Homo sapiens: one gene and its partners. The protein of the gene in region 6 purifies or fractionates together with the protein of the main gene of each other region. This does not show direct contact. Each region holds a gene or a part of one and is shown on either strand. Other genes may lie near its edges. The genes, in order: CMSS1, PDCD10, MCTS1, PPP1R12A, NCR3LG1, MILR1 and DNAJC2.

Region 1 (2,922 bases), on a different chromosome or scaffold from region 6:
TCTTGTTTACAGAAAGCACACTGTGGAGTCCTTGAAACACCTTTGTATAGCATTTTATTTTGAATGGCTGCAAACAAAAGGGCACTTTAATGAAACTAATGTTTTATATAGTACCTCCTCCTTCATTTATATAAATATTTTAATTCTGCCAGGCATGGCAGTGCACACCTGTAATCCTAGTGCTTTGGGAGGCCAAGGTGGGAGGATTACTTGAAGCCAGGAGTTCGAGACCCGCCTGGACAACAAAGCAAGACCCTGTCTCTACAAAACAATAATAATAATAGGCCAGGCACAGTGACTCACACCAGTAATCCCAGCACTTTGAGAGGCCAAGGCAGGTGGATCACTTGAGGCCAAGAGTTCAAGACCAGACTGGCCAACATGGCAAAACCCTGTCTCTACTAAAAATACAAAAATTAGCCAGGTATCATGGCACACACCTCTAATCCTAGCTACTCAGAAGGCTGAAGCATGAGAATCACTTGAACCTGGGAAGCAGAGATAGCAGTTAGCCGAGATCACGCCACTGCACTCCAGCATGGGCAACAGAATGGGACTCTGTCTCAAAATAATAATAATAATAATTTTAAAAATTTCAACTCTGAATCAAATGTGTGTTAGGACTTTTGCACTCTCTGATTCTGGCCATAACAGCTGGGTAAATATCAGGGAGTCCTGATGGTTGAATGTATTCACCAAGACCATTTTGGCTTGATCTTAATCTTTTTTTCCCCCCTTTTCTCTCATTTAGATAAGAAAGGAGGTATTCGAACTTCTGGAAATGGGAGTGCTCAGTCTGTGCAAGTCAGAATCCTTGAAACTGGGCCTTTTCTAAGTCTGTGTCCTAATGAAGATTCCAGTTTTCACAGTAGAAGTTGCATCTTATTTAATGACTCTGATACATTGCAAGCACTCAGTAAATATCAGCAAATAGTTTATGTTAATTGTGTCAACAGATGGATCACTGGAATGTGGGGATTCTGAAACAGAAATGAAACTGTCCTTTTGACAACTCTCTTATATAATAAAGTATCACCGGCTTGTGTATGATCCTTGTTGAGCGGACCGTGTTTTTCTGTCACCAACTGGCTTCTGATGTAACTGTGCAGGAGAAAGGAAAGAGCAGCTGGGTGACCTTAGGCAAGCGTAAGGTCTTGCCTCTCTGAGCCCCATCTTATCAACTCAAAGTGGGAATGTCTCACAGCATTGTTGAGGATTCCAGGAGATAGTACATGGGGAGCAGATTTGTAAACTCTGAGGCATGGTCCCAGCAAAAAGGGTGGCAGGTATATTAATCCATTCTCACATTGCTATAAAGAACTACCCGAGACTGGGTAGATTATAAAGAAAAGAGGTTTAATTGACTCACAGTTTCACAGGCTGTACAGGAGGCATGGCTGAGAGGCCTCAGGAAACTTGGCAGAAGGTGAAGGGGAAGCAAGCACATCTTCACATGGCGACAAGAGAGCAAGAGAGTGAAGGGAGAAATGCCACACACTTTTAAACGACTAGATCTTGTGAGAACTCACTCCCTATCATGAGAACAGCAGAACAGCAAGGGGAAAATCTGTCCCTATGATCCAGTCACCTTCCACCAGGTCCCTCCCCCAACATTGGGAATTATAATTCAACATAAGATTCGGGTGGAGACACAGAGCCAAACCATGTCAATTCCACCCCGGCCTCTTCCAAATTTCATGTTCTTCTCACATTTCAAAACACAATCATGCCTTCTCAACAGTCCCCCAAAGTCTTAACTCATTCCAGCATTAACTGAAAAGTCCAACTCCAAAGTCTGATCTGAGACAAGGCAACTTCCTTCCACCTATGAGCCTGTAAAATAAAAAACAAGTTAGTCATTTCCAAGATACAATGGAGGTACAGGCATTGGGTAAATGCTCCCATTCCAAGTGGGAGAAACTGGCCCAAAGGAGCTAAAGGCCTCATGCCAGTTTGAAACCCAGCAGGGCACTCTTTGAATCTTAAAGCTCCAAAATAATCTTTGACTCCATGTCTCACATCCAGGCCACTCTGATGCAAGGAGTGGGCTCCCAAGGCCTTAGGCAGCTCTGCCCCTGTGGCTCTGCAGGGTACAGTCCCCATGGTTGCTTTCACAGGCTGGTGTTGAGTGCCTACAGCATATCCAGGTACACAGTGTAAGCTGTCAGTGGATCTACCATTCTGGGGTCTGGAGGATGATGGCTCTCTTCTCACAGCTCCACTAGGCAGTGCCCCAGTGGGGACTCTGTGTAGGGTCTCCAACCCCACATTTCCCCTCTGCACTGCCCTAGTAGAGGCTCTCCATGAGGGCTTCACCCCTGTAGCAGACTTCTGCCTGGACATCCAGGCGTTTCCATACATCCTCTGAAATTGAGGCAGAGGCTCCCAAACCTCAGCTCTTGCCTTCTGCACACCCATAAGCCCAACAGCACGTGGAAGCTGCCAAGGCTTGGGGCTTGCACCCTCTGAAGCAATGGTTCAGCTGTACCTTGGCCCCTTTTAGTCACAGCTGGAGCTGGGGCAGCTGGGAATTAGGCTGCCATGTCCTAAGGCTGCACAGAGCAGCTGGGCCCAGGGCCTAGCCCACGAAACCATTTTTTTCCTCCTAGGCCTCTGGGCCTGTTTGGTGGGGCTGGGGAGGGCTGCCACGAAGGTCTCTGAAGTGCCCTGGAGGCATTTTATCCATTGTTTTGGCTATTAACATTTGGCTCCTCTTGTGCAAACTTCTGCAGTGAGCTTGAATTTCTCCCCAGAAAATGGCTTTTCTTTTCTACCACATGGTCAGGCTGCAAATTTTCAAGCTTTTATACTCTGCTTTGCTTTTAAATATAAGTTATCTCTGCTTATGCAAATGAGCATAGGCTTTTAGAAGCAACCAGGCCACCTCTTGAACACTTTGCTGCTTAGAAATTTCTGCCGGAT
Region 2 (4,237 bases), on a different chromosome or scaffold from region 6:
CACGTGGTTTGCAGCTCACCAGTGTCTGCATTTCTTCTCATTTTGAACTTTGCAGGAGCCTTATGTCAGCTTTTGGACATTATTTCTTAGAGGACTTGGGATGTCTTCCGTATATTATACATCTGTCTGTTTCTCTTAAGGATGTAAGGTCTGTAAGAATAGGGGCTGTTTATTATTGTAGTCTGAGTAGGTAAGATAATATTTACAAAGAGAATGAAGAGGCTCAAGTTGGTTAAGTGACTTGTAACTGGTGGGAGTAAGACAAAATCGAGATCTTCTGACTACAGATCTTTAATATTTTGGAGTAAAGACTTAGTTCCCTTAGATTATTTACATGAGAAGAAGACTTAACGTGACTTAAATATTCAAATACTATTACCTTCTTACTCTGTTTAACACTAAAAATTTATCTCTTCTCCTATCCAGCTCTCCGTCCTTATCTCCAGCCTTTCTCATTTACCATGCCTTTCAGTTACTACATACATAAGCTGCTTCCTGACTTGGTGGCCTTTACATATTCCGTCTCACTCCTTGGACTGTTCCCCTCACGCCTACCTAAATGTGGCCACCTGGTAGTCAGTTTTCACGTCTCAATTTAAATATCGTTCGTCAGGGGAGCCTTGCCCGCCTTCCCAAAATCAGAATAGGTTTCCGCCATGTATTCACCATACTCTGTACTCCTTTGTGGCATCATCATAATAGAAACTTAATTATTTCTGTATTTATTTGACAAATACTGTCTCCTCACTGGACTATAAGCTCCCTGAGCAGGGCCCTCTCATTTGTCATGTTTTACCCCACTACTTACGCAGTACCTGGCACATTGTAAGGGTTCAGTAAATATTTGCTGAATGAATGAAGGAGTGTATTCATGCACAGTGCTTCCAGCACTTCTCTGGGGACAGAAATAGAGAAATGAATAAAGCGGATATGCTTTCTGGATTGAAGTATATAAGAACTTTCAAATGAGCCATAATGCTTAGGCAATTTAGGTTATATGTAAAGGAGTCATTGACAGAATTTTAATATAAATTGTGGAAAAATGTTTGTTCTTTTTGGAGGTCTCTGAAATCAGGATTAATTTTCTAAGTGGAAATGATAAAGGAATCACTTTCATTTGCCGCAGAATTGCTGTGTAACACAGCATTTTAGAGACTTATCACTGTCCTGCTTTTTGCAAGCGATATTCATTATAACAAAATATAGACATGGAAGAAACTTCTAATGGACTCTTCTTCCCTAATGTTGTCTCGTTTTGCCCTAAAAACCTTTATTTCCTCTAGGTAGTAGTATTAATACTGTTTTATAGCTGAAGACATCAAGAAAATAAGTAAATTTACTTATTAAACTAAAAAAAGTTTAATTAAATTGCTAGAGTTTCCAGAACGTTGGTACTGGAACCATGGTTAGAATCTGGATCTATCTCCGTATTCTAGAATCCATAATTTTTTCTTTTTCTTTGCTTTTTTGTTTTGTTTCTTGCTTTTTAACCTTGCTATCTTCCTATGAATTATACCTTTAATATCACTTGATTTAGACAAGGTGGCTTTGTAAAATTGAGTAGTTTTTGTTTCAAAGGAACTTATATTTTGGGTTTCCTGAAAATTTTTCTAATACTTTTCTAATCTTATTTGCTTTATAGCTGGAGACTTAAGCATAAAAAGATTATTTTTAAAACATACAAACTGAATTTTAGGGATAAATTGTGTTAGGTTTTGGTCTTGGAAACAAGTTCTGCAGTCATTTGTAGTACCACGGTATGGCATAGAGTAAGGTCAACAGCCCTGAGTTTCTGTAGCCTTGTATGCCTTCATGGATTTACCAGTTTACTCTTCCACAAGATCTTGTCAAAAAGAGATTGCTGATAATTTGGCTTTAAAATTTGGTAATACTATCCATTTTATTATTAAAAACAAGTCTTTGCTAAATCCTAAACTTACTTTTTAAAAAGTCAGTGTTGATGTTACTTGAATCTTGGATAAAATTTTCATATTTACCTAGCATAACCAGTATGTGGAGGATAAAACTGAAATACTGCTTTTTATATGTTGTTGGATAATTAATATCATTATGATAGGTGTTACTAAGAATTTTAAGCCACTTACATGATAAGTAATTTTTTCCATAATATAAACTGTAAAAGTGATTTAGAAGTTAAATGTCATTGTTATCTATGTTATTGCATTTGAAATATTATAGTAAGCTGCAGTGTTAGAGGGTTATGCTTTAGGGACACACACACACACACAATGCAAAAAATGAAAGCACATTTATTATAGCAATTAGAAATAATTTATGTGCTGAAAGATAAACACTGTGGTTTGATGGTTCATTTTTGTCTGTATGAAGATGGTAATTTCAATTTTGTCATTTAAGCTACAAAATTTAAATGTGTCTTAAGTGTATTATATTACACTTATTTTTCAAGCTCACCCTTACATTTTTGGTTATGTATAACCATTTTTAAAATCACCCAAAAGTGATTTTCTGCTGTTCAGTTTCATTCTTATACAGTTGATAGAATCCAGGTTGCCTATAGGGTTAAAAGAAAAAGAAAAGAATTTTATTAACAAGCTTATGAACTATTGGGTAACAGCAGTGGAACATGTTAAGTGGTAGTCACTAACATATACTTAGGCTGGTCCCTTGGGAATAAGTTTACCAGAGGTTAGTCTAAATAATGACTTTTTGATTCATTTACTTATTGAATGCATATTACTTGTGAAATTGCCTTAAACCTTCTTTGGAATGAACTGGAACCTAATATAATAGCTAGCATTTATTGAGTATTAAGTAACTAAGTGCCAAGTCTCATGCTAATAAGCATTTTACAGGATCTCTTATAATCCTTACGACAACCCTTCGAGGTAGAGGCACTATTATCTCCAGTTTTTAAATGAGGAAACTAAAGTACAGAGAGGTTAAGGAACTTGCCTACGGTTGCAGGAAAAATTGCTTGGAATTAGGATTTGAATCCAGGCTGGCTGACTCAAGAGACCATGTTTTTCATCATTATAGTAAAAATGATGTTAGTGATTGAACTGCATTGGAGAGAGAAATTAGCATTAAGAGTTGTAGTTACAGAGCAGTTATGTCTTAAATGCTAAGGTCAGTGTGGCAGGCAGAAATTACTTAATATTCAAACTTTTTAAAAAACCTATTAGGAAATACACGTTGTAGACTAACAACTTCAACACAGCCAGTTTTTTTCTAGCATTGGAGTAGATTTCTTTTGAGTACCAGGTGAAGTGTTTGACTTGTTATGCAGAGACCATATTGAAAAAAGAAATATGTATATTATAATACAAGAGTCACAATCAGTGTGGCAAGCTACTCTTTGTGAGAGCTCACTGTGGCTCTCAGTCTGGTGTGGGGAGTGGCAGATCCACGTTTCTTATCTGTCTCATTCTGGGACTTTTGCATAGGGAATGGAATTATCACATACTGCAGTAGTTATTTTTAGTGAAGTTATTTTTTTGTTTGTTTTCTTCAAACAAATGTTCACCATGTCTGTTGAACTTGCATAGGGTAGGAGTATCATGTGAAGCAGGTACGCTCCCTGGAGTGTTAATGCCAAGTGGCAGTGTGACATGTCACTGTATTTCTTTACTGTCTCTCTTCCCTGCCAAGACTACATACCTTCAAGGGTATGTGCTGTTTGACTTTTCATCACCATATCTCCAACTAACACTGTTGCTGACTTAGACTGACTATGCAGAATACTGTGTTGGATACTAGGAAATAGAGAAATGGATACAACTTCTCTTTAGGGAGTTTATACTTCAGTAGATACAAGGGGAAAGGGTTGAAAGACCATTGTATGGACATTTAGTCTTTCTAATATACTAAGTACTTCCATGTGCATCAGTTCATTTTACAATTTTAGGTTAGAGCTGATAGAAAAATAAATGATTGTTTCTCTAACTGCCATCTGGTCCCTGGCACTGAAATGGGTCTCCCTGTCTTATTCAGTCATTCTCTCTTACTTCAAGATAGACTGGAATTCAACTGAGATTGAAGTTATGGAATGACAAAACCCTAAGATGTTACACACCGGCTGCCTCCTCAGACTTATATAAGGTTACTACAACAGAAGCCAGTTGGGAATGTTAAATGAGTCAGACCTGGCCTCTAGACAGCAACTGCACCCTATACGAGTTTAGATTGTTGCTAGGCTTTTTTTCATTTAATTCCAAAGCATTTGGAATCCTTTTTTTTTTTTTATTGAGAACTGCAC
Region 3 (4,237 bases), on a different chromosome or scaffold from region 6:
GAGACCAGCCTGGCCAACATGGTGAAACCCCGTCTCTACTAAACATACAAAAGTTAGCCGGGCGTGGTCACAGGTGCCTGTAATCCCAGCTACTCGGGAGGCTGAGGCAGGAGAATCACTTCAACCCGCGAGGCGGAGGTTGCAGTGAGCAGAGATCACGCCATTGCACTCTAGCCTGGGGAACAAGAGCGAGACTTAGTCTCAAAAAAAAAAAAAAAAAAAAAAAGACAAATATTTATTGAACTTACTATGTGCTAGGCATTCAGCTAGGTGCTGAGAATACAATGGGAAGCAAAGACATTGTCTCTGTCCTTAAGAAACTAATAGTCTAGTTTGGAGAATAAACAACAATTAGATAATTACGCAAATATGTATTTACAAACTGTGATAAGCATTGTGAGCATTTTCATCTTTTATATTTGTATCTATTTGCCTAATAGAGAAAAGTCTATATATGGGAAAGCATTGACTAAGTGTCCTTCCGTCCAGGTATTTCCTGTGATGTGTGTAAATGCATTTTTTTTTAAAATTGGGCTCTCTGTTACATAGTTTTTAAAAATTGATACGTCATAGCTGTACATTGTCTGCTGTTGTGGTGCCTGTATCCCCCACCACCTATATATATTTATAATAGTTGTACATATTTTAGGGGTACATGTGATATTTGATACCTTTATACAGCGTGTAATGATCAAATCAGGGTAATTAGGGTATCTGTCACCTCAAACGTTTATCTTTGTGTTGAGAAGATTACAATTCTTCTAGCTATTTTGAAATATAGAGTAAATCATTGTTAAATATAATTTCCTTATTGTACTCTCGAATACTAGAACTTATCGACCTGTATTTTTATACCCCTTAACCAACTTCTCCTCATCCCCTTGTAGTTTTTTTTTAAATTAACAGGCTTTTATTTTTTAGAGCAGTTTTAGGTTTCCAGAAAAAGTAAGCAGAAAGAATAGAGTTCCCTCTCCCCAGTTCAGATTCCCCTATGAATAACATCTTGTTTTGGAATGATACATTTGTAACAATTGAACCAGCATTGATACATTATTATTAACGCAAGTCCTTAGTTTACATTAGGGTTTACTCTTTGTATTCTACAGTTTTATGGTTTTTCCCAAATACATGTCAAGTATCTACTGTTAAAGTATCATACAGAATGGTTTTACTGGCCTAACATCCTTTGTGCTCCACCTATTCATCCTTCCTCCCCCCACTTCCCCAACCCCAGGTAACCACTGATCTTTTTAATCGTTTTTTTACTCTGCGTTTTTCACTTAACATTATATCACAAAAATTTCCCAGGGCATATTAAGTAGTCTCCAAAAACCATAGTTTTGAAATTACGGTTTTTGGAGAATACTTGGGATGCTGAGGCGGGAAGATTGCATGAGTCCAAGAGTTCAAGGTTATTGTGAGGTATTGATTGCTCCACTGTACTCCAGCCTGGGTGGCAGAGCAAGACCCTGTCTCAAAAAAACAAACAAAAAAGATTACCAATTTGGTAAACAAATGATAGTGTTTCAGAGTTTTCTTTTGTATCTGTCAGATTAATTTGGGGAAATACTGTTCAGATCCTTTGCCTTTTTCTGTTGAGTCATTAGTCTTATTATTAATATATTGTATATCTTTTCTTACAGATCCTTTTATCCTGCCACACCAGCAGGTTGATAAAGGAGCCATCAAATTTGTACTCAGTGGAGCAAATATCATGTGTCCAGGCTTAACTTCTCCTGGAGCTAAGCTTTACCCTGCTGCAGTAGATACCATTGTTGTATCCTTCCCAGGCTAAAACTGCTGAAAAATGTATTCATTGTGCTCTTATCATTACTGCGAAAGGTGTACCATCCAAGAGAACATTAGATGTACTTTTTTGAAGGTTACTGTTACTCTTATCTCATGCCTTTCTGGTTACATTTGAAGTTGTACAAAGTAATTTTATTTGTTGCTACTAAATTATCTCATCTTAGGTCGTTTCTTAGAAGTTAAATGAGAACAAGTTACAGAAGAGTCTCAGCTGCATTTCAGCCCAGTCAGGGCCTACTGTTATCAGACTTAGGACACAATAGGGAATTCTTGATTACTAGGGGAAAGGATATAGATGATATAATTGGATCAGCTTTTTGGATATCAACTTGCCACTGTAATGTTCATTTTGACTTACTGACATACGTTGGAGTGAAAGCTCTCAAAAGGGAAAAGAATTTAGGCACCAGGTATAGGTATCTCTTACCAAGCAACAATTTTGTGTTAGGAGTGAATAGTGGGAAATATTGGCAACCTCCAACTTTTATTTTGAAAATTAATTATTTGAAAAGTTGAGTTTGGGGGCCTCAGAGCACGTTTTCTCAAAGAGAAATGTCAGAGTCCCAGATGGTCCTTAAAGATCGATTCAACTCATGACATAGCTGAATAATTCTGCATTATTTCCATTTCTACCATGCTGTTTCAGCTATTTTCTGGATTAAATAGATTTTTGTGACTATTCTGGACAGGAGAACATCTTCTCCTTTATCATAGCTAAAGTAGCCATTTGCCTCGGGTATAGAAAAGGAATGGTACTTGGTGGGAATAGGGAAACTACTTTTAGAGTGTGTTTATCTTATTTTAGTTTTTGAGATGGAGTCTCGCTCTGTCGTCCAAGCTGGAGTGCAGTGGCACGATCTTGTCTCACTGCAACATCTGCCTCCTGGGTTCAAGCAATTCTCCTGCCTCAGCCCCTCGAGTAGCTGAGGTTACAGGCACCCACTACCACGCCCGGCTCATTTTTGTATTTTTAGTAGAGACAGGGTTTCACCATGTTGGTCAGGCTAGTCTCAAACTCCTGACCTCAGGTGATCCACCCGCTTTGGCCTCCCAAAGTGCTGGGATTACAGGTGTGAGCCACCACACCTGGCCAGGGGTGTGTTTAAGAAGAATAAGAAAAAAAAATGATATTCTCTGTTGGGGCAGTTATAGCGAAGAGGTAGTATAAGTAGTATGTTTATATTCTAGGAACAGCTTATGTTGACATGCTTTTTGCCTAATAGGTGCTCACATATTTGGAACACTGAGTGAATTGAAAATCAAGGGAGAAAAGTGAGGACGGGTTTTTTGTTGTTGTTGTTTGTTTTTAATATTTATTAAGTGTTGGTAAATTTATAGTTCTGGAGTTAACCTTAAATGGAAAATTTCCTTAGTACCTAGTCTTTACTTTTAAAAATAATTTTTATTTTGAAACAGTTACAGATTTAGAGAAAGTTGTTAAAGAAAATGGTACAGAGAGGTCTTGTGTACCCTGAATCTTGACTTTTTAAAATATGTACTGCAGTGTTTAACATTCCAGAAACTTCATATGTTAACCAAGACCACTCTGGTTTTTCTAGAAAGGTTGAAACTGTTATATCAGGCTCTTAAAGATAGACTGGGAATTTACCTATTATTTTAAAACAGCCTTTACATAAAACCACCATTCAGGCCGGGTGTGGTGGCTCATGCCTGTAATCCCAGCACTTTAGGAGGCTGAGGCGGGCAGATCACCTGAGGTCAGGAGTTCGAGACAAGCCTGGCCAACATGACGAAACCCTGTCTGTACTAAAAATACAAAAATTAGCTGGGTGGGGTGGCATGCGCCTGTAATCCCATCTACTAGGGAGGTTGAGGCAGGAGAATTGCTTGAACTCAGGAGGCAGAAGTTGCAGTGAGCTGAGATCATGCCACTGCACTCCAGCCGGGTGACAAAGCAAGACTCCATCTCAAAAAAACAAACGGCCGGCTATGGTGGCTCACGCCTATAATGCCACCACTTTGGGAGGCTGAGGCAGGCGGATCATGAGGTCAGGAGTTCAAGACCAGCCTGGCCAACATGGTGAAATCCCATCTCTACTAAAAATACAAAAATTAGCTGGGTGTGGTGGCACACGCCTGTAGCACCAGCTACTCGGGAGGCTGAGGCAGGAGAATTGCTTGAACCCGGGAGGCAGAGGTTGCAATGAGCCAAGACTGCGCCATTGCACTCCAGCCTGGGCAACAGAGTGAGACTCTGTCTCAAGAACAAACAAAAATCCCCACTAGTCAGTGATCAGAATAATTAATCAGAACAATTAATATTTATTGATTTCACAGTTTTTAGTATTTATGTGCAAGAAATTTTACTCCTTTTTTGTGTGACTTATTCTGGTTTTGTTAGCATGGGGTTATAGTATTAACATTTGACTTGAAAGAAAAGGGGTTATTAGATTTATTCATTTAGCAT
Region 4 (4,237 bases), on a different chromosome or scaffold from region 6:
CCGGGCGCGGTGGCCCACGCCTTTAATCCCAACACCCTCTGAGGTCGAGACAGGCAGATCACTTGAGGTCAGGAGTTCGAGACCAGCCTGGCCAACATGGATGAAACCCCATCTCCACTAAAAATAAAAAAATTAGTCGGGCGTGGTGGTATGTGCAGGTAGTCCCAGCTACTCAGGAGGCTGAGGTGAGAGAATCACTTGAACCCGGGAGGCAGAGGTTACAGTGAGCTGAGATCGCGCCACTGCACTCCAGCCTGGGCGACAGAGCGAGACTTTGTCTCAAAAAAAAACAAAACAAACAAAAAAAAGATTTAGAAAGGAATTTGATACCTGTCTTCCAATATTTGAAAATACTGTAGGTAGAGAATAATTTAAAACCCCTTTTAGTAGGTCATTAAGTAAGATGCTTAGATTATCACTTTTGGGGGATGTTTTCAGGGCTGGAGAAGAGGACCTTCCTCAGTTAAAAACAGACAAAAAATTTACTCCTTATCCATTCTGCTTAATTGGGCTAAATGAAATCCTTCTATTTTTTTCAATAGAGCTAAAATTTTTAATCTTCAGTTCTCTAAATCCTTTTTAAAAATGTGGTTCCATCTTAAAATTAAATTACATTATTTTAAAAAATGTAGTTAGGAAGTTAAAATGTGATGTTAAAATATAATTATTAAAATATAACTAGTTCCAATCTAAAAAGAAATTATAAGATTGCATTATTGAATTTCAAAGACCATTTTCTGAAGACTTTTCCTTAAAACTTACTAAGATATTAAACCTGTATGTTTTATTCATATGCATTGATAGATATTTACATTCACAGGTATTGTATTTACAACTAACGATTTTTCAATTTACTACTGTAGATCATACCTCACTCCTGTTAGGGATGAAGAGTCTGAATCCCAAAGAAAAGCAAGATCTAGACAAGCAAGACAATCTAGAAGATCAACACAGGTATAGTTAATGTAATTAATATATAAAACTTACATAAGTAGCATATAAAATATATATACACACACTGACATAAAACAAGTTACCTTTCTCTTTTTCACTTTGTTGTGAAAATATTGATGTCAGTATATAGTGTGAGTAAATCCTTAAAAGGTAAAGGTTGCTGTAGTTATTCTAGTAATTCTAGTGTGAATAAATCCTTAAAAGGTAAAGGTTGCTCATAGCCTTTTGTATGGTTACACTGCTACTATTGTATTTCATCTAATTAGCATATGCCTTTGTGTCTTTTTGAGTATTTTTTAAATCCTTATTCCTAATACAGTGTCTGGCCCAGAGTATTTGGTTAGAATAAATTAATCATATGATGTCTAATAAGTATTTAAAAGTTCTATGAATATTTGGAAATCGGGGGCAGAGAATAGGCTCGTATATTAGGTATAAACAACTAATATGCAAGTATGAAGAAAATGTCATTCAGGCTGGCGATCTCCTTACCTCCGTTTTGCCATTCTGATTATGCTGTATATGATGTATACTTTTGTGTCTTTCTGCTTTCCCACAGTTAAGAAGCTCCACAGTCCAGATTCAGCTGTCTATCCTTACCATTACTTAGCTTTCAAGCTGAACTATTTGCTAGGGCCTTAATATACTTTTTCTGTCTTTATACTTTTCACTTCTTGAAATCTAACCTGTTCTTCAAGGTCAAATCTTGAAAAATTTATCGAAATCTCTTTTAAGCCTTAACAATCATCATGCATGTGTATATAGATACATATACACACATATATATACACACACACAGACATATATATAAACATAAATATTTATAATATACAAACAGTACAGATACTGGCTATTCTTCTCTAGTTTGAACTTGTGGGGAACATTTATATGCATAGAGTATCCAGTACCTATCGTTGTGCTTGCTAATGGTGATTCTTCATAGAATGAATGTAACTTGCTGTTTCCATTTGCAAACCAATTTTAAACATGCATATTTGACTTTTAATGCATTTGTATGTAATATATCTATTTCTAAAATATTCCTTGAAACAAGCTTTAATGCATCTCATAATTATATTGATCTTTTTGTGTGTGCAGGGAGTGACATTAACTGATCTTCAAGAAGCTGAGAAAACAATAGGAAGAAGTCGTTCTACCCGAACCAGAGAACAAGAAAATGAAGAAAAAGAAAAAGAGGAAAAAGAGAAACAAGATAAAGAGAAACAAGAAGAAAAGAAGGAGTCAGAAACATCTAGAGAAGATGAATATAAACAAAAGTACTCCAGAACGTATGATGAGGTAACAGTATATCAAAAGCACATTTAAGTCAAATGGTATGAATAGTCCTTATGATCCTTAACATACAAGAGATTTATATACCAACAAACCATATGCAAAATACTGTAAAGGATTTTAGCTGGAAATTTGAATTACTTTGGCGTGATTAGTATACTACTTTTTCTTTGAAATGAATTTTTAAGTATTTTTATGTTTTTAATTGTGTTTAATGTTTCAAATGGGTTTTGATCTTAATGTTTCACAGACTTACCAGCGTTATAGGCCAGTATCAACTTCAAGTTCAACCACTCCATCCTCTTCACTTTCTACTATGAGCAGTTCACTGTATGCTTCAAGTCAACTAAACAGGCCAAATAGTCTTGTAGGCATAACTTCTGCTTACTCCAGAGGAATAACAAAAGAAAATGAAAGAGGTAAGAATACCAAATTTTGAAAACACTTTGCTTTCTTCATATAATCCTTTGGATTAGGGTTTCCTAAATAATAATTCAACAGTAAAGGAACAGCATCCTAACTTGTGATTCATCGAACCTAAACAGAAAGAATATGAAGGTTGAGAATGAGAAAAGTAGAAAACAGAAATAGAATATGGCCTGCTGTTGATACTAATATTTTTATAACCTAATACTTCACAAAAATCTTCATGTCCACCTACAACGAAAAGTTAATATCGAACTGGTGGGTGACTATTTCTAGAAGCAGTTTACTAGTGTAGTACTTCTCAGATGCTTTAAGCTATTTCTTGCCTACTGTGTAGATCATATCATTTAAATGTTTTTTTGTGAAATTGTTGTAAACTAAAATTACTAACTACATGTAATGCTCTCACTAAAACACATTTTTATGCTTATTTCTTAAAAAATACATTTCTTTCTCAACTATATATTGGCATATTGATACTCATTACCATTTCCTATTATTTTATATAAACTTTCTATTTAAATTCTGAGTAATTCCTACTTTAAATCAGATATAAGTACTAAATATAGGCATTTCATATTTTAAAGCCTAAATCTTACAGTATTAGTCATGATAATATCAGTAGTAATGTAGAATAAACAGCAGAAAATAAAGTTTTTTCCCAATTTCCAGCTATATATTTTCTCATGTTGATCATTGAGATGTTTCAGTTCTTTAAACTTCTATGTGTGAGGCCTGCATTGTGTTTGTAAAAATGTTGAACCAACATTTAAAATTAGAGATACTCACTTCAAACTTCAGATTTTTGCCATTTCTTGAAAAGTTGGCTGACCTGGCAACACTGGATCTGAATTCTCACATACCAACAATTGGCTGGAGCTAAGTAGTAGCAGCTGCCTACCTTCCATCCCCCTAGATAGTCCCCTGGCCCATTTTACCCATTGTTTTTACAATTACCTTGCAAAATATTGTCAAGATATATTGCTATATTGTGGTTCATTGCAATCCTTAACAGAGGGAGAAAAAAGAGAAGAGGAGAAAGAAGGAGAAGATAAATCACAACCTAAATCAATCAGAGAACGACGACGACCAAGAGAGAAAAGAAGATCTACAGGAGTTTCATTTTGGACACAAGATGTGAGAACCTATTAAAATACATTATTTGATAGTATTCTTGATAGTATTCTTAATGTGTCCAAAAATACATACTAATAATTTCTTATATGCCTTAGATTTCATATTCCTTAAATCATCACTGTGTTTTCTGAGTTGTTAAATAAGAAAAATTATTTTTAAGGATAGTTAACTACTTAGATTGTTGGTACTACTTAAAAGGAGTGGTTCTGACCTAATTATGGAATAGAAATAATAATGTCTGAAGCTCAGAGTGCATGTATTGATTATTTTATAATAGGTAAACTGCTTCTTGTAAAAACATCTTTTAAGAATTTCTAAGGAGTCTATTTAATTTCATTTTCATAAATATCATTATAAGATCTACATTACAGATTACTTCCATCTCAAAGCATGCTAAATAGACACAGTGCTTTGCTTATCAAATTAC
Region 5 (4,237 bases), on a different chromosome or scaffold from region 6:
TATCTGCAAAATGGCTTTCCGGGATTTTGACTGGGATTGCATTGAATCTAGAGATCAAGTTGGGAAAAATTGACATTTTTTTTTTTTTTTTGAGACAGAGTCTCGCTGTGTTGCCCAGGCTGGAGTGCAGTGGTACAATCTCAGCTCATTGCAACCTCTGCCTCCTGGGTTCAAGCAATTCTCCTACCTCAGCCTCCCGAGTAGCTGGGATTACGGGCATGCGCCACCACGCCTGGCTAATTTTTGTATTTTTAGTAGAGACGGGTCACCAAGTTGGCCAGGCTGGTCTCAAACACCTGACCTCAAATGATCCACCAGCTTCGGCCTCCCAAAGTGCTGGGATTACAGATGTGAGCCACCACACCTGGCCAATGGTATTATATTTTTAATTTCAAATTCCAGTTGCTCAATTGTTCATTCCTGTCAAATAATTGATTTTTGCTTATTAACTTTGTATCCTGCAACTTGCTTTAATCACTTATTCATTCTAGGGATTTTTTTGTTTTTGTTTTTGTTTTTGTTTTTGGCCAAGTCTTGAGATTTTTCTACATAAATCAGGCTGTCTGTTAAAAATACAGTTTTATTTCTTCCATTATTTTATTTTATTTTTTACAGAGGTGAGGTCTCACTATGTTGCCCAGGCTGGTTTTGAACTCCTGAGCTCAAGTGATCCCCCTGCCTTGGCCTCCCAAAGTGCTGGGATTACATTGTGTGAGCCACTGTACCAGGCCTCATATTTCTTCCATTCTAACTTTATACCTTTTATTTCCTTTTCTTGTCCTGTTATGCTAGCTTAGACTTCCATTACAATGTTGCACAGGAGTGGTTAGAAGGGACATCTTGTCCATTTCTGATTTTACTTTCTAACCATGAAATATGATATTAGCTATTTTTTGGTAGATATTCTTTAGCAAGTTGAGGAAGTTTCCCTTTTATTCCTAGTTTGCTAAGAGTTTTTCATATGAATCAGTCTTGGGTTTTGTCAAATACTTTTTCTGCATTATTGGTATGATCATATAATTTTTTCTTTAGCCTGTTGATATGATGACTTACATTAACCAATTTTTGAATGATAAGCCAGCCTTGCATATGTGTAATATGCCTCTCTTGGTTATGGTATGTAATTTTTTCTGTATTGTTGGATTATATTTGCTAATATTTTCTTGAGGATTTTGTATCTACTTTAATGAGTGATATTGATCTGTAGTTATCTTTTCTGGTAATGTCTTTATGCGGTTTTGGCAGTAGGATAATATTGGGCTTGTAGAATAAGTTAGAATGTGTTCCCTCTGTCTACTTCTACTTTCTGGAAGAAATTGTAAAAAACTGGCATTATTTATTCCTTAAATGTTTAGTAGGATTAACCAGTGAAACCATCCGAACCTGGTGCTTTCCTTTTTGGAAGGTGATTTTTTTCTTCTTCTTTTTTTTTTTTTTTACTAGTTATTGACTCAGTGTCTCCTTCCTTCCTTCCTTCCTTTCTTTCTTTCTTTCTTTCTTTCTTTCTTTCTTTCTTTCTTTCTTTCTTTCTTTCTTTCTTTCTTTCTTTCTTTCCTTCCTTCCTTCTTTCCTTCTTTCTCTCTCTTTCTTTCTTTCTTTCTTTCTTCCTTTCTTCCTTTCTTCATTTCTTCATTTCCTTCCTTTCTTTCTCCCCTCCCCTCCCCTCCGCTCCCCTCCCCTCCCCTCCCTTCCCTTCCCTTCCCTTCCCTTCTCTTCCCTTTCTTCCTGCAACGTCTTGCTTTGCTGTCCAGGCTGGAGTGCAGTGGTGCGATCATGGCTCCCTGCAGCCTTGACCTCCTGGGCACTAGCGATACTCCCACCTCGGCCTCTGGAATAGCTGGGACCACAGGCATGCACCACCATGCCCTGCTAATTTAATTTTTTTTTTTTTTTTAAGAGATGGAGTCTATGTTGCCCAGACTCGTCTTGAACTCCCTCGGCTCAAGTGATCCTCCCACCTTGGTCTCCCAAAGTGCTGGGATTACAGGCATGAGCCACCATGCCTGGCCCACTAAAGCACTTCTTTTTATGTTTCTCGCACAGCAGGTCTATTGGTGAAAGGTTTGTCTGAGAAAGTCTTTATTTATACTTCACCTTTGAAGGAAAATTTTTCTGGATATAAGATTCCATGTTGGTGTTTTTCTCTTTTTTAAGTTTCAATGCTTTAAATATTTCACTTCACTCTCTCCTTGCTTGCATTGTTTCTGACAAGAAGTCCAGTGTTGTTCTTGTTCTTCTATATGTAAGGTGTGTTTTTTTTCCTGTGACTTTTTTCTGTCTTTCTTTTCCCTCCCTCCCTCCCTCCCTCCCTCCCTCCCTCCCTCCCTCCCTTCCTTCCTTCCTTCCTTCCTTCCTCTTTCTCTCTTTTCTTTTCTTTTCTTTCTTTCTTCTTTTGAGATGGGGTCCCACTCTGTTTCCCAGGTTGGAGTGCAGTGGTATGATCACGGCTCATTGCAGCTTCACCCTAGTGGGCTCAAGCCCAAGTGATCCTCCCACCTCCGCCTTCCAAGTAGCTGGGGCCACACGCGGGTGCCACTAAGCATGGCTAATTTTTGTATTTTTTGTAGAGATGGTGTTTCATTATGTTGCCCAGGCTGGCCTCGAACTCCTGAGCTCAAGTGATCCACCTGCCTTGGTCTCTGAAAGTGCTGGGATTATAGGAGTGAGCTACCATGCTTGGCCATCTTTGTCTTTCTAAAGTTGAAATATGATATGGCTAGACGTGGATAGGCATATTTGGATATTTATCATGCCTGGTATTCTCTAAGCTTCCTGGGTCTTTAGTTTGGTGTCTATCATTAATTTTGGAAAATTCTCAGCCATTATTTATTCAAATTATTTCTTCTGCTCCTTTCTCTTTTCTTCTTCTTGTATTCCCATTATATATCTGTTACACCTTTTGCAGTATCCCACAGTTCTTGGCTATTCTGGGGTTTTTTTTAAATTCTTTTTTCTCCTTGTATTTCAGTTTGGGAAGTTTCTTTTTTAAAAATTGTTTGTGATAGGGTCTTGCTCTGTATCCCAGGCTGGAGTGCAATGGCGGGATCTTGGCTCAATGCAACCTCTGCTTCCCAGGTTCAAGCAATTCTTGTGCCTCAGTCTCCTGAGTAGCTGGGACTACAGGTGTGCACAACCATGCTGGCTAATTTTTGTTTTTTAAGTAGAGACGGGGTTTTGCCATGTTGGACAGGGTGGTCGCCAACTCCTGACCTCAAGCAATCTGCCCACCTTGGCCTCCCAAAGTGCTTGGATTATAGGTGTGAGCCACCACACCGTGCCCAGTTTGGGAAGTTTCTATTAACATCTTCAAGCTCACTGATTCTTTCCTTGTCAGTTTCTTTTTTTTTTTGAGACGGAGTTTTGCTCTTGTTGCCCAGTCTGGAGTGCAGTGGCGTGATCTCAGGTCACTGCAACCTCCGCCTCCTGGGTTCAAGTGATTATCCTGCCTCAGCCTCCCAAGTAGCTGGGATTACAGGCATGCGCCACCACCCCTGGCTAATTTTGTATTTTTAGTAGAAATGGGGTTTCTCCATATTGGTCAGGCTGGTCTCGAACTCCTGACCTCAGGTGATCCACCCACCTCGGCCTCCCAAAGTGCTGGGATTATAGGTATGAGCCATTGCGTTCAGCCTCCTTGTCAGTTTCAAGTCTACTGTTGAACCCACTGAAGGCATTCTTCATTTCTTTAATGGTGTTTTGAGCTCTAGCATTCACTTTTGGTTCGTTCTTAGCATTTCCATCACTCTGCTTATATTATCCATCTGTTTGTGCATGTTATCTGCTCTTTCTGTTAGTGCTCTTAACATTTTAATTATAGTTTTTTAAAATTCCCTATATGATAATTCTAAAATCTGTGTCATACCTGAGTCTGGGTCTGATGTTTGCTTTGTTTTTATGTATTTTTTAGCCTTGTAATTTTTTAGTTGAAAGAGAGATATTATGTATCAGGTAATAGGCTTTTATTATGCGGCCTTATGTTAATTTGGCTAGGAGCTGGGTTGTGTTTAATGCTTATTGTAGCTATAGGTGCCAGAGACTTCAGTTTCTCTAGTGTTTTTTTCTCTCCTTTCCTATTGTCTTTGGGTTTCCTTATGAACTCCTTAAATAGGTTCTGTGCCTTGTAGCTCTCTCACTTATAATCTTCTGTTATTATACTGGAGCCCTGTTGATGTGGTAGTAAAGTGTTGGAGGAGAATCTGTTTATACTTTTATGATTAAATCTTATTCTTTTAGTGGC
Region 6 (4,237 bases):
TAAACACAAGTTTAAGGCCTGTGAACAGTGTTCATTTCGCACTGGGCGCTGCAAGTGGTGCGGCTGCTCCTGACTGCAAGTGCCTCAAGCGAGAGCTTTGCCTTGAGTGACTCTAGATCTGCCACATACGTAGGGGAGGTTCAGTGCATGAGGACAAACAAGCGTCATCCCATTAGCACAAAAGACACCTTCAAAAGGTTTACAATTGTTTGGGGCTGGAAGTATTGAAAATATTAGGTTGGTGCATAAGTAATTGCAATTTTTGCCATACTTTTATGGCAAAACCCACAATTACTTTTTTTTTTTTTTTGAAATGGAGTCTCGCTCTGTTGCCCAGGCTGGAGTGCAGTGGTGCAATCTCGGCTCACAGCAGCCTCTGTCTCCCTGGTTCAAGCGATTCTCCTGCCTCAGCCTCCTGAGTAGCTGGGATTACAGGCACCCACCACCATGTATTTTTAGTAAAGACAGGGTTTCACCATGTTGGTCAGGTTGGTCTTGAACTCCTGACCTCAGGTGATCTGCTCGCCTCAGCCTCCCAAAGTGCTGGGATTACAGATGTGAGCCATTACGCCCGGCCCACAGTTACTTTTGCACCAACCTAATATATACATATTTTTTATTTCTACATTTCTATGCTTTCTAGATTTTCAATGTAGAAGTATAATCTATTCTACTATAAGATTTTTTAAAAAACTTTATTAAACACACCAGACTCAAAAAAACAAAAACAGAAACAAAAAAGCATCATTTCTCTCTTCCCCACCTTAAGTGCTACATCCAGCAGAAAACTTGTCAATGTTATTAGAAGCCTCAGTTACAGCTTTTTTAAAAAAATGTTTTTTAGAGACGGGGTCTCACTGTGTTGCCTAGGCTGGTCTTGAACTCCTGGACTCAGGCGATCCTCCCACCTCAGCCTCCCAAAGTGCTGGGATTACAGGCATGAGCCACTGCACTCAGCCCAGTTACTGCTTTTCATTCCTCACGTCTTATGGCCACCACTGGTTAAGCCTTCAAAGTGGTTTTTTCATTTGGTACACGAGTGCAGAAGGATATGAAGATTTACACAAAAGACAGTTTGGGTCTCAGCACTGGCCCCCATCAGCAAGCTGAGGGCTGTTGGACAAGCCCCTCAGGCTGTTGCTTCTGAGCCTCAGTGTTCTGAGTTGTGGAATGGGCCATGGAGATATTGTCAGAACTGGCAAGAGAACCAATTGAGAACCATCTCCAGAGAGTCACAACTCAGAGAAGTCAGGGACTCAGTTGACATAAAACTTGAACACAGAGGTCACAAGTTATACATCTGATGCATCTTTAAGATTTTATTTTATTTCATTTCTTTTTTTTAGAGATGGGGCTTCACTGTGTTGCCCAGGCTGGAGTGCAGTGGTGCCACCATAGCTCACTGTAACCTCCCACCTTAGCCTCCCTAGTAGCTGGGAATACAGGTATGCACCACAACTCCTGGCTAATTTTTTTTTTTTTTTTTTTTTTTTGAGGCAGAGTCTCGCTCTGTTGCCCAGGCTGGAGTGCAGTGGCACAATCTCCGCTCACTGCAACCTCTGCCTCCCAGGTTCAAGCGTTTCTCCTGCCTCAGCATCCTGAGTAGCTGGGATTACAGGCGCCCACCACCACGCTAGGCTAATTTTTGTATTTTTAGTAGAGATGGGGTTTCACTATGTTGGCCAGGCTGGTCTTGAACTTCTGACCTCGTGATCCGCCCACCGCGGCCTCCCAAAGTGCTGGGGCTGGTGAGCCACCGCGCCTGACATTTTTTTTTTTTTTTTTTTTTTTGAGACAGGATCTCACTTCCATCACCCAAGGCTGGAGTGCGGTGGTGCAATCATGGCTCACTGCAGCCTTGACCTCCCAGGCCTCCTCCTGCCTCAGCTACCTGAGTAGTTGGGACCACAGGCGCGCACCACCATGCCTGGCTAATTTTTTTTTTTTTTGTAGGTTTCACCATGTTTCCCAGGCTAGTCTTGAACTCCTGGACTCAAACCATCCTCCTGCCTCAGCCTCCCAAAGTGCTGGGATTACAGTTTTTTGTTTTTTTTTTAATTACAAAATTCTTTTTAGAGACAAGGTCTCACTATGTTCCCCAGGGTGGTCTTGAATTCCTGGCTTCAAGTGATCCTCCCACCTCAGCTTCCCAAAGCACTGGGATTACAGGCGTGAGCCACTGCACCCTGGCCCACATCTCATATGTCTTAAAAACATGTTTCTCCTTCTTATAAAAAGTCCAGGTTCTTGCAAAAGTGGCATTAATATTTTTGATTACTGGCTGGAGCTACAATAGAATTCAGTGAGGCTGGCCGGGCACAGTGGCTCATGCCTGTAGTCCCAGCACTTTGATCACCTGAAGTCTGGAGTTTGAGACCAGCCTGGCTAACATGGTGAAGCCCCGCCTCTACTAAAAATACAAAAAATTAGCCAGGCATTGTGGCACATGCCTGTAATCCCAGCTATTCAGGAGGCTGAGGCAGGAGAATCGCTTGAAACCAGGATGCGGAGGTTGCGGTGAGCGGAGATTGCACCATGGCACTCCAGCCTGGGCAACAGAGCAAGACTCCGTCTCAAAAAAATACAAAAATTAGCTGGGCATGGTGGTGCACAACTGTAATCCCAGCTACTCGGGAGGCTGAGGCAGGAAAATCGCTTGAAACCAGGATGCGGAGGTTGCGGTGAGCCGAGATCACGATAGTGCCACTGCACTCCAGCCCAGGCGACAGAGCGAGACTCCATCTTAAAAAAAAAGAATTCAATAGGCCATTTACACTCTCTTGAAGATATTACAAAGCTTCCACAGACTATTCTCTTCAGCGAAGGAAAGAAAATAAGTCTGGCTAGTTCAGGCATAATCTGATAGGCAAAGCATGTTCCTCTGAAGGCCAGGAAAATAAATCAGAACAGCCCCTGGCTTGGAGGAGCGGTGTCTAGACTCCCTGTTGAGTCTATAGTTTTCCTTTGTTAGACAACAGTTTGGGCCATTGGAGCAAGTCACTCTCTGTTTCAGAACTTTGAGGGAATTCTGCTCCTTGGCCGAGGAGATGAGAAAAATGTGGCTGAATTGGTTTAATTTGATGATTCCTACCTATTTACGTAGGAAAAGCTATGAGAAATAATGTGCCCAGGGACCGTGGAGACACAGCCATGGAAGTTGGAATCTATGCAAATATCCTTGAAAAACAAGCAAGTAAGAGAACTTTGTTGCGTGTTTTGGGTGGTTTCAGGTTTTTGTCTTTTTATTTTGTTAAGGTTGTACAGACATACGGGAGTGGGGGGTGGAGCAAAAGGGATAGAGTTCAATGTCTATTGATGCCCAGTCCCACTTTCTAGGGGTAATAACCAGTTTTTTAAATCCTTCCACAGATATTCTGTGTGTATAATAAACAAATGGTAGTGATTGTAGCATATTGTAGGTATGACTTTCTACACCATGATTTTGTTTTTTTTTCATGTAACAACGTATCTTGGAGATTTTTCACATCTGTTCAGAATGATCCACACTGTGTTTCACAGTCTTTCACGGTCACCTCTCAAAGCAGGCATTGCATATTGCTTTGCAGTAAACAAGACCCAGCGCCTCGGCTGATGTATTAGTCCATTCTCATGCTACTATAAGGACATACCTGAGATGGGGTAGTTTATAAAGGAAAGAGGTTTAATTGACCCACAGTTCCGCAGGGCTTGGGAGGCCTCGGGAGACTTACAATCATGGTGGAAGGGGAAGCAAACACATCCTTCTTCCCAAGGCGGTAGGAGAGAGAAGAATGAGAGCCAAGGGAAGGGGGAAACCCCTTATAAAACCATCAGATCTTGTGAGAACTAACTCACTGTCACTAGAAGAGTATGACAGAAACCACCCCCATGATTTAATTATCTCCACCTGGTCCCTCCCATGAGATGTGGGGATTATGGGGACTACAATTCAAGATGTGATTTGGGTGAGGACACAGTCAAACCCTATCATCAGCTGACAATGGAACAGTCCCAGCCTACATGGCCACATTCCAGACGCATTGCTGAGCAATTTACCGACCTTTTCTAACACAAACGCCACCAACCCCCAATTTATGTCATTCTCATTTTACAGAGGAGGAATCTGTGCCAGAAGTGGGATCCAGGCCGTGTGTTTCCACAGCCCAAGATGGTGAGCATGTTCTGCAGAGTCTATTCCACTGCCCTCATGCGCTTAGAAATTCACATAATTGGCCCAATAATTCCTATTCCTTATCTT
Region 7 (4,237 bases), on a different chromosome or scaffold from region 6:
CTCCATCTTCGAGTTGTAGAGTTTGTAGGGAAGGGAAATCAGAGGAATTAGTAAAAATTATTGTTTTTAATAAATTAAATTGTTTGTTGAACTGTTGTACATAATTTTTGAAGAATTGTAAGAATATTTCCTTTGATATTTCAGATGGTCAAATAAAAAAAATGTTCCTAAACTTGGTGATATGAATTCATCATTTGAAGATGTAGATATATTTTATTCTTTCTGGTAAGTGAATATACTGTTTGTATGATGCTGTCATTTTTTAAAAGGAAAAGTATTCAATAAGTACTTGATTGTTTATAAATTAATTCAGATGGACAAATTGCAGAACCTTCACTGAACAAAAGCACTCTGTTACCTATGTGATATTTACACTTTTAAGATTTTCTATTAATGAGATTTCTAGATATCAAGCACATGATAGTAGTAAAAAATGAAAATTGGGGAGTCATTTGAATAAAAATAAGTACATTTTTATTTAGTTACTTCCTACTAAAAGTACTTGAGTTCATGAGGAAGGAGACAGTGCTATTTGTCTCTGTAACTAATTCACTAATTTTTAATATGCGCAATAGTTAGTGGCCATTTTATATGTGCTACATTTTCTCATCAAATGTCTAGTAAATACAAAAACATAAAATCACATAGAACAAAAATAACAAGATTTAGTTCTATCAGTTGTAATTGCTTTTACCTTCAGAGGATACAAACTGGAGATGAGATAACCACTACTAGGGTTACCTTCAGACTTGACAGACTAGCGAAATTGAAGGCAAGGAAAACTTAAAAATAGGTCTTGGTCAAGCGAAAAACCTAACAAAGAAGAGATAGCAGGGCGGTGTGGTTTTGATTATGGAGTGATATGTGCATTTTAGATTTTCATACCAAATGCAATGTCCTTAAAAAAGGAGAAAGACTTGACCTTAGTTCAATACTAGAAGGGAAGGAAAGGTATCCATTAAAACAAATTCATTCACTTGCATTAAAAAGAATTTTTTTTCATTTATTCTGTCTTGATCATGTATTATTTCTGTCTATATTAGGTATAATTTTGATTCTTGGAGAGAATTTTCTTATTTAGATGAAGAAGAAAAAGAAAAAGCAGAATGGTATGTATGCAAATCATTAATAATGGAAGGTATTTATTTGGTTCTCTGGTATTTGTGATGATGTAAAAATTGTCACGTAAATTTTCTTTCATATTTTCTCTTTGTACATCTTTTTTAAACAATTTTTTAATATTTTGAAATCCTTTCTCACAAGTTAAACTAGGTGGGCCCAGATCAATAATTGGTTAGGATATGCTTAAGAAATTGCCAAGGAATATAATGTCAGATAGCTCAGTTCAGCAAAATCTTTTTCTTCTGGTTGCTTAACCTAGGTTTTATTAATTTTTTTTTTGTATGTGTGCAGAAATGCTTTTGACATGAATGTGCAAAAAATAACCAAAATTAATATTAAATAGAACCACTGTTTAGGCCGGGCGTGCTGGCTCATTCCTGTAATCCTAGCACTTTGGGAGGCTGAGGCGGGCAGATCACCTGAGGTCAGGAGTGCGAGACCAGCCTGGCCAACATGGCGAAACCCTGTCTCTACTAAAAATAGAAAAAGTAGCCAGGCATGGTGACAGGCACCTGTAATTCCAGCTACTCCGGAGGCTGAGGCAGGAGACTCACTTGAACCTGGGAGGCAGAGGTTGCAATGAGCCAAAATCACGCCATTGCACTCCAGCCTGGGCGACAAGAGCAAAAGTCTGTCTCAAAAAAAAAAAAATCATTGTTTAATGTTAGTAATGACACAGCATTTTAACCTCTAGGATGTTATGTACATATAAATATTTTATAAAATATTGCATTTTCCAGTCATAGCATCTATAAGCAGTAGTTTGTTTCCAATATTTTCTATTTTATAGTCGTGATGAGAGGAGATGGATTGAAAAGCAGAACAGAGCAACAAGAGCACAAAGAAAAAAAGAAGAAATGAACAGAATAAGAACATTAGTTGGTAAGTAGAATTGATTTAAGTCCCCTAAATGTTAGAAATTCAAAATGAGATTAACTTTTTCTTTTGCTAGACAATGCATACAGCTGTGATCCAAGGATAAAAAAGTTCAAGGAAGAAGAAAAAGCCAAGAAAGAAGCAGAAAAGAAAGCAAAAGCAGAAGCTAAACGGAAGGAGCAAGAAGCTAAAGAAAAAGTAAGACAACATTTAATGAAGGTGGACTTTAAATGTTTATGAAATCTTTAATCTTCACTTTAATCTTCACATCTTTTTTTAAAAAAAACTATAATTCGAAAGCAGAGAATTGGGTGCTACTGTGAATGAATCATGACCAGTTGGTATAATTGAGAGATCTTCCTTACCAGCACGTTTTTATTGAGCAAAAAATTGTGTCATAAGTTCCTTTAATATTATGCTTATTTCTAATATGTCAATTTTACATTTTCTAATAAATGTTTATAGATCTTTACCAGCTGTCTTTCCGAGTTCATCCTTCAGTTTTCAATAAGTTTATGTTGCCTTTTTTCCTAATATAATTTATTAAAAGTTTAAATTTTTAAAATTATAAAACATTTAGGAATTTTACTGTACCTATTAAAATGATTTTACTCCCTTTTTTTAAAGCAAAGACAAGCTGAATTAGAAGCTGCTCGGTTAGCTAAGGAGAAAGAAGAGGAGGAAGTCAGACAGCAAGCATTGCTGGCAAAGAAGGAAAAAGATATCCAGAAAAAAGCCATTAAGAAGGAAAGGCAAAAACTTCGAAACTCATGCAAGGTATATCAGACTGAACAAACACTAGGCACAAGTAAATCAAGTTGCTTATTAAGCAAAAATACTTCTTTTTGTTTGTTTGTTTTTTAGATGGGGTCTCGCTCTGTCGCCCAGGCTGGAGTGCAGTGGCGCGATCTCAGTTCACCGCAATTTCCGCCTCCGGGTTCGAGCGATTCTCCTGCCTCAGCCTCCCGAGTAGCTGGGATTACAGGCGTGTGCCACCACGCCTGGCTAATTTTTTGTATTTTTAGTAGAGACAGGGTTTCGCCATGTTGGCAAAGCTGGTCTTGTACTCCTGACCTCAAGTGATCTCCCCGCCTTGGCCTCCCAAAGTGCTGGGACTACAGGCATGAGCCACTGCACCCAGCCAAAATATTTCTTGAAAAAAAAAAATTATTTTTATTTATTTATTTATTTGAGATGGAGTCTCGCACTGTCACCTGGTCTGGAGTGCAATGGCACGATTTTGGCTCACTGCAACCCCCGCCTCCTGGGTTCAAGCAACTCTCCTGCCTCAGCCTCCTGAGTAGATGGGATTACAGGTGCCTGCCACCACGCCTGGCTAATTTTTTGTATTTTTAGTTGAGACAGAGTTTCACTGTGTTGGCCAGGCTGGTCTTGAACTCCTGACCTCATGATCCACCCATCTCAGCCTTCCAAAGTGTTGGGATTACAGGCATGAGCCACCTGTGCCCAGCCAAAAAAACTTTTTCTAATTAAGTTTTTGTTATTGTTGTTGTTGAGGCAGGGTCTCAGTCACTCAGGCTGGAGTGCAGTGGCGCCATCTCGGCTCACTGCAACCTTCACCTCCCAAGTTCAAGCCATTCTCATGCCTTGGCCACCCAAGTAGCTGGGATTACAGGTGCATACCACCACACCCAGCTAATTTTTGTATTTTTAGTAGAGACGGGGTTTCACCATGTTGGCCAGGCTGGTCTCAAACTCCTGGCCTCAAGTGATCCCCCTGCCTTGGACTCCCAAAGTGCTAGGATTATAGGCATGAGCCACTGCACCTGGCCAAGCATAAATGTATTTCTTTTCTTTACTATGCAAATGTAACTAAACAAGACAGAGTCTCCATCTCAAAAAAAAAAAAAAAAAAAAGACATGCTGAGATAACTGAAGATATGAATATAGACACAGTTTCAGAATATATATATATATATATATATGTGTATATATATATATTTTGTGACAGAGTCTTGCTCTGTCGCCCAGGCTGGAGTACAGTGGCGCAATCTCCGCTCACTGCAAGCTCCGCCTCCTGGGTTCACGCCATGCTCCTGCCTCAGCCTCCCGAGTAGCTGGGACCACGCCCGGCTAATTTTTTGGATTTTTAGTAGAGACGGGGTTTCACTGTGTTAGCCAGGATGGTCTCGATCTCCTGACCTCACGATCCGCCTGCCTCGGCCTCCCAAAGTGCTGGGACAGTTTTAGAATATTAACTTGTTTTTTGGTTTGATAA

What was found.
Region 1: the proteins of MILR1 (region 6) and CMSS1 purify together in Homo sapiens (affinity purification with mass spectrometry; one large-scale study listed by BioGRID and IntAct). This does not show direct contact.
Region 2: the proteins of MILR1 (region 6) and PDCD10 purify together in Homo sapiens (affinity purification with mass spectrometry; one large-scale study listed by BioGRID and IntAct). This does not show direct contact.
Region 3: the proteins of MILR1 (region 6) and MCTS1 purify together in Homo sapiens (affinity purification with mass spectrometry; one large-scale study listed by BioGRID and IntAct). This does not show direct contact.
Region 4: the proteins of MILR1 (region 6) and PPP1R12A purify together in Homo sapiens (affinity purification with mass spectrometry; one large-scale study listed by BioGRID and IntAct). This does not show direct contact.
Region 5: the proteins of MILR1 (region 6) and NCR3LG1 purify together in Homo sapiens (co-immunoprecipitation; one large-scale study listed by IntAct). This does not show direct contact.
Region 7: the proteins of MILR1 (region 6) and DNAJC2 purify together in Homo sapiens (affinity purification with mass spectrometry; one large-scale study listed by BioGRID and IntAct). This does not show direct contact.

The regions. Positions count from the first base shown.
Region 1 is NC_000003.12:100,177,554-100,180,475, forward strand, and holds part of CMSS1 (protein CMSS1), read left to right. Parts: intron 1-751; coding exon 752-835; 3' UTR 836-2,922.
Region 2 is NC_000003.12:167,728,223-167,732,459, reverse strand, and holds part of PDCD10 (programmed cell death protein 10), read left to right. Parts: intron 1-4,237. UniProt on the Homo sapiens protein: Promotes cell proliferation. Modulates apoptotic pathways. Increases mitogen-activated protein kinase activity and STK26 activity. Important for cell migration, and for normal structure and assembly of the Golgi complex.
Region 3 is NC_000023.11:120,606,582-120,610,818, forward strand, and holds part of MCTS1 (malignant T-cell-amplified sequence 1), read left to right. Parts: intron 1-1,643; coding exon 1,644-1,777; intron 1,778-4,237. UniProt on the Homo sapiens protein: Translation regulator forming a complex with DENR to promote translation reinitiation.
Region 4 is NC_000012.12:79,795,211-79,799,447, reverse strand, and holds part of PPP1R12A (protein phosphatase 1 regulatory subunit 12A), read left to right. Parts: intron 1-863; coding exon 864-954; intron 955-2,052; coding exon 2,053-2,253; intron 2,254-2,497; coding exon 2,498-2,666; intron 2,667-3,688; coding exon 3,689-3,810; intron 3,811-4,237. UniProt on the Homo sapiens protein: Key regulator of protein phosphatase 1C (PPP1C). Mediates binding to myosin. As part of the PPP1C complex, involved in dephosphorylation of PLK1. Capable of inhibiting HIF1AN-dependent suppression of HIF1A activity.
Region 5 is NC_000011.10:17,361,215-17,365,451, forward strand, and holds part of NCR3LG1 (natural cytotoxicity triggering receptor 3 ligand 1 precursor), read left to right. Parts: intron 1-4,237. UniProt on the Homo sapiens protein: Triggers NCR3-dependent natural killer cell activation.
Region 6 is NC_000017.11:64,462,349-64,466,585, forward strand, and holds part of MILR1 (allergin-1 isoform Allergin-1L precursor), read left to right. Parts: intron 1-3,103; coding exon 3,104-3,193; intron 3,194-4,093; coding exon 4,094-4,150; intron 4,151-4,237. UniProt on the Homo sapiens protein: Immunoglobulin-like receptor which plays an inhibitory role in degranulation of mast cells. Negatively regulates IgE-mediated mast cell activation and suppresses the type I immediate hypersensitivity reaction.
Region 7 is NC_000007.14:103,320,470-103,324,706, reverse strand, and holds part of DNAJC2 (dnaJ homolog subfamily C member 2), read left to right. Parts: intron 1-144; coding exon 145-225; intron 226-1,043; coding exon 1,044-1,109; intron 1,110-1,912; coding exon 1,913-2,004; intron 2,005-2,074; coding exon 2,075-2,196; intron 2,197-2,625; coding exon 2,626-2,775; intron 2,776-4,237. UniProt on the Homo sapiens protein: Acts both as a chaperone in the cytosol and as a chromatin regulator in the nucleus.